2 separate regions of the Homo sapiens genome follow, and region 2 is linked to region 1. The links come from fine-mapping of genetic effects on gene expression. Tissue or cell type: whole blood. Region 1 holds a variant in brackets; the other region holds the start of a gene. All regions are shown on one strand. Distances are from middle to middle.

Evidence for each region. PIP is the estimated chance that this variant, and not a neighbour inherited with it, causes the effect.
Region 2: RAB11FIP1 starts here. The variant in region 1 is fine-mapped to the expression of RAB11FIP1 in whole blood (TOPMed, PIP above 0.99).

The regions. Positions count from the first base shown.
Region 1 is chr8:37,857,276-37,859,956 of GRCh38, reverse strand. It overlaps RAB11FIP1 (RAB11 family interacting protein 1), which reads left to right. Exons shown (of 6, transcript NM_001002814.3): 6 at 1-1,339. Among named protein-coding and RNA genes, the nearest start is that of BRF2, 8.8 kb to the right of the region's middle. The variant G/C (reference allele first, on the strand shown) is at 1,173.
Region 2 is chr8:37,897,794-37,900,474 of GRCh38, reverse strand. It overlaps RAB11FIP1 (RAB11 family interacting protein 1), which reads left to right and starts at 978. Exons shown (of 6, transcript NM_001002814.3): 1 at 978-1,404. The coding sequence starts at 1,034. RefSeq lists silencers at 714-943, 1,164-1,593.

The sequences.
Region 1 (2,681 bases):
TAACAACTGTCCCTGAGGACTCAGTTTTGGGGGAGGGGTTATCTGGGAGAAGCTTTAGCCTGTTCTGAGCCATTAGGAGACATTAGTGAATTGGAGCACTGGAGAATCCTACAAATGGCCTATGTCTCAGAAGAGCTGGGACCTCCTTCCAGCTGCTGCAGATGCTGACAGGCCCTGGGAGGCTGCTGTGCTCTGGAGAAGCTGGAGCAGCTCATTTCTTGGCCTAGCCTGGCTGCCTCAGAAAGAGCAGTCAGGACTTGAGGGAAGCATCAAATTCTATACCCATAAACTGCAGTTGGAAGTCAGCTTTTTGAAATGTCCAGCCTTTGCCCAATTGTTTCAGATCATCTCATGCCTCAGGCTTTGGCAGGTATCCTGCCCTCCATCTTATTCCAGTGTGTTCACCTCATCAAGGCAGCAGAGTGGATGAAGGAGTAAGTCTGCCCTTTGCCATACTGAACAGCTGTGGACCCCGATTGGTGAGGGCTCTGCATATGCCTGTATGAAGGAGATACAGGTGTGTGTGCACATGCCGGTATGAAGAAGACACAGGCATGTGCTTCTCAGTTTTGCTAACAGTGGGAGCTCAACGGGGCAGAGGGAGGAAGGTCCATGATGCTCAGCCACATACTGTAGAGAGAGGCAATTTAATGTTAAATGACGCACCATCCTCCCTCCCACCCTTCTCCCAGTCAACTTTTTTTCTTTTTCTAGAACTACTAATTATCTCTCAAGGCTGAAAAATTAATTGCCTTAGGTGGAGAACTTAATTCCTAGTATCCACCAAACTTAACTCCGTATCTCCATATGGTGTCTCCATATCTACTGTGTGAGCTACTTAACTGACGCCCTCTTCCTCCAACTGAAGGATCGCCCAACGTTTTTGGATTATAGAATTATTATTTCCTGCTTTCTTTCTTTGGGACTTTTGAATTTCTTTGGTTTCGTTTTTAAGAAGTAACCCAACATTTCCTACAACACTAAATAAAATGGTACTTACCTTTCAAAGATTTGTGTCTGTAGTTTGGTATGGGTGCAATAAAAATTTATTTTGTCTTCCTGGAAAACCTCTCTTGGTGGGGGTGGGGGGATGACCAGTGTTTCTCATCCCATGAGGGTCTCTCACTGGGATTTCTGTTGCTGCCATCTTGCCTGGTTCCCAGGAGTCCCAA[G/C]GCCCTTTTTCTCAAAGAGGACGGACATGTCTGGTCCCTTCGGATGCACCCTTCATCTTGGCCTGAGGGACCATGGCACTGGCCAGAGAAACTGAGTTGGAACGTGCTGCCCCCTTTTCCTTTGCAGCCGGTACCCTTGGCTGAGCATTTGGACAGGGTCTTTCCTCAGTTCCCACCCCCACCACACACACAGGTTCCCACAGAGTGATGTCTTCACTTTGGGGGCATGAGTTGAATTCAGGCTGGGCTCAACTGCCCCATCTGGGAACCAGGTCCTTGTTCAGTTGACTTAGTTTGTCCATGTGTGAATAGAGGGTATTAGGGATGCACAGGAGTCTCCTGGAGTTCATCTCTCCAAACCCCAGGCCTTTCCCAAGGAGGTGAGAGGTGTGCCTGCCCCGCGAGCGGTGCACGTGGTCCACACTCCAAGGTCCCAGACCTCTTGGAATGGAAGTGATACCTTTGCTCTTAGAGATGAGTCACATTGTAGAGAGACAGAGGCAGGCGGTGCCTGTGAGACTCCTGGGCTGGGATGGGGGAGCTTCCCTGAAGGCCTCCCTGGTTTTGGTGGAGAGGCCTGGTGATTCCAAGTGGACATCGACTGCCATGTGTAGTGACATGAAGACACTTAATAAATTTTATTTTATTTATTAAATCTCTTAATAAAACAACCCTCTAAATGGAAGGTCTTCAAGGAAGGAAAGTTTAATTACACAAATGACCCCAACTTTTCTCTCTCAGATTTATTCCCCTTGCTTTGGAGTTCTGTTTGGTTCCTGCTATTGCCACCAAACCCAGCCCTCAGGGCCAGGCTATTATATTTTTCAAATTCCAGCCCAAGGAGGGAGACACAACCATCTTTTCTTTTGAGTCCCCTTAGCCCAGCAGCTAGTAATGGAAAGCTTTAAAAAAAAAACAAAAAACCAGGCCTGGCACAGTGACTCACTCCTGTAATCCCAGCACTTTGGGAGGCCAAGGCGGATGGATCACTGGAGGTCAGGAGTTCAAGACCAGCCTGGCCAACATGGTGAAACCCCGTCTCTACTAAAAATACAAAAATTAGCCGGGCATGGTGGTGGATGACTGTAATCCCAGCTACTTGGGAGGCTGAGGCAGGAGAATTGCTTGAACCCAGGAGGCAGAGCTTGCAGTGAGCCAAGATCATGCCATTGCACGCCAGCCTGGGTGACAGAGCAAGACTCTGTCTCAAAAAAAAAAAAAAAAAACAAGAAAATAAGGGAAATAATTATAGGATATATGAACAACATAAAAGGTGAACTTTCCCAAATCCAGAATTCTGAGTCGAAGTCAAGCCCCAAAGGTCTAGAGGCACCCAGTCACTCGGCTAGGTGGGCCCCAGTTGTTCTTAGGTGACCTGAGTTCCCTTGTGCTCCATTCTGGAGGAGCAATAGACGCTGTTCCCCTCCTCCACTCCCCTGTCTGCTCACTTACTCTAGATTTTTCTTTTTTTGAGATGAAGTCTCACTCTTGTCGCCCAGGCTGGTGTGT
Region 2 (2,681 bases), 41 kb before region 1:
GGCAAAATAGGACACTCCCACATTGAACTCATGCTCCCCAGGATACCTTCCCCTTTTCCGGCCCTCACAAGGTCCTCACCTTCCTCTGCAGCTGCCTTCCTCCAGAGCAAGGCTTTCCAGCGGGAGAAGTAGAAAGCACAGTGAATTGGGTGGGCATCTTCCTTAGCACCCTCATAGTTACCAACTTTATTTTTTTGAGACAGGGTCTTGCTCTGTTGCCCAGGCTGGGAGTGCAGTGGCACGATCTCGGCTCACTGCACCTCGACCTCCTGGGCTCCAGAGATCCTCCAGACTCAGCCTCCCAAGTAGCGGGGACCACAGGCGCTTGCCACCACTCCTATCTAATTATTTTTAATTTTTTTTGTAGAGACGGGGATCTGGCTATGTTGCCCAGGCTGGTCTCGAACTCCTGGGCTCAGGAGATCCTCCTGTCTCAGCCTCCCAACGTGCTGGTCATGGTTATTTACTGAGAACTCACCATGAGCCAGGCACTGGGCCAAGAACTGTAATGCATTATTATTATTATTTTTTACAGCAATCCTAGGAGGTGATTGTCAGGTGAAGAAATTGAGACTTGATGTTAGGTAATCCGCGCAAGGCCACGACTGGCGATGTGACCCTGGAAATGAGGTCTGACTTCCAAGTCAGTGCTTCGGCCAGCTCCTTCCCGCCGTGCGACCTTTGGCAGCTGGGGACCCCATCCGTCACCTACCACCTCTCAGATTAGATTCTCGATGCGCCCGCCCCTGCGCACGTGATCCCCTGCCTGCCTGGCCGCGCCAGCCCCGCCTCCGGCGCCCGGGTGCCCGGAGCTGCCCGCGCTGCTGAGGCCGGCGGGGCGGGGCGGGGCGGGGCGGGGCGCGGCGCAGCAGGTGGAGCAGGCGGCTCGGGCAGGGGCGTGGCCTTGGCCATGAGGGGCGTGGCCTGGCGGGGGTGTGGCCGGAAGCCTTAAAGTGGCCTGGTCGCCGGGGCGGGCCGTGGAGGCCGCCAGTCGCGGCGATCTTCTCCTCGCTTCTGGAGTGTTATCGTCACCATGTCCCTAATGGTCTCGGCTGGCCGGGGCCTGGGGGCCGTGTGGTCCCCAACCCACGTGCAGGTGACGGTGCTGCAGGCGCGGGGCCTGCGGGCCAAGGGCCCCGGGGGCACGAGCGACGCGTACGCGGTGATCCAGGTGGGCAAGGAGAAGTACGCCACCTCCGTGTCGGAGCGCAGCCTGGGCGCGCCCGTGTGGCGCGAGGAGGCCACCTTCGAGCTGCCATCGCTGCTGTCCTCCGGACCCGCGGCCGCCGCCACCCTGCAGCTCACCGTGCTGCACCGCGCGCTGCTCGGCCTCGACAAGTTCCTGGGCCGCGCCGAGGTGGACCTGCGGGATCTGCACCGCGACCAGGGCCGCAGGAAGACGCAGTGAGTGCGGGCGGGGAGGGGAGGGCCCGGCCTGGGGGCGCGGACCCCTCCGGCAGGGCGGTCTGGGCGCTGGACCCTTCGAGAGTAAGCCGGGCAGCAGCGGGGAAGGCCTTTCGGGACGGAGCCCTCGGCCGGTGCTGGTGTTCTCACCTGGCTTCCCCTTCTGCGGCTGTCCCGCCCAGCTCTGCCAGCTTTGGGTCTTCTTGGAAGAAGGGGCCGTATCTGGGGCGCTTTTTTTTTTTTTTTTTTTAGACAGAGTCTCTGTCGCCCGGGCTGGAGTGCAATGGCAATGGCACGATCTCAGCTCACTGCAAACTTCGCCTCGCAGGTTCACGTGATTCTCCTGCCTCAGCCTCCCGAGTAGCTGGGATTACAGGCGCGCACCACCACGCCCGGCTAATTTTTTTTTTTTTTTTTTTGAGACTGAGTCTCACTCTGTCGCCAGGCTGCAGTGCAGTGGCACGATCTCGGCTCACTGCAACCTCCGCCTCCTGGGTTCAAGCGATTCTCCTGCCTGAGCCTCCCGAGTAGCTGGGACTACAGGCGTGCGCCACCACGCCCGGCTAATTTTTGTATTTTTAGTAGAGACGGGGTTTCATCAGATTGGCCAGGATGGTCTTGAACTATTGACCTCGTGATCCACCCACCTCGGCCTCCCAAAGTGCTGGGATTACACGCGTGAGCCACCGCGCCCGGCCCGCCCGGCTAATTTTTGTATTTTTAGTAGAGACGGGGTTTCACCGTGTTGGCCAGGCTGGTCTCGAATTTCTGACTTCAGGTGATCCGCCCACCTCGGCCTCCCAAAGTATTGGGATTACAGGCGTGAGCCACCGCGCCGGGCCTGGGGCGCTTTTGAATCTGCAGGACGCCCCTCAGCGTCTGGCACACAGTAAGCACTAAGTGAATTTTAGATGAATTCCAACTATACGTGGGCAGGTGCCTTCTTCTTACTAGGGTGGTAGCCCGTGTCTGATACTCGCCTTCGCTTGGGTGGAAGGCCTCCTGGGTATTTCACTGAATAGAAGAACACTTCGAGCCGAGAATGACTGGGCCAGGGCGCAGGGCAGAGGAACAGGAGGCATGAAACCAGCTGACACCCCCACCCTAAAGGCTAACCCCGGGCGCAACGCCTTTACAATGCGGGGTGGGTGGAGGTTGGGGGAGGGGAATGGCGTTTGCCGGCTGTCACATGACTTGCTAACCCCTTCCCCTACCTCATACTTGCCTAGGGGGTTGGTGAAGAGAATTTGCCCCTACAGAAAGAATGTTACAACAGT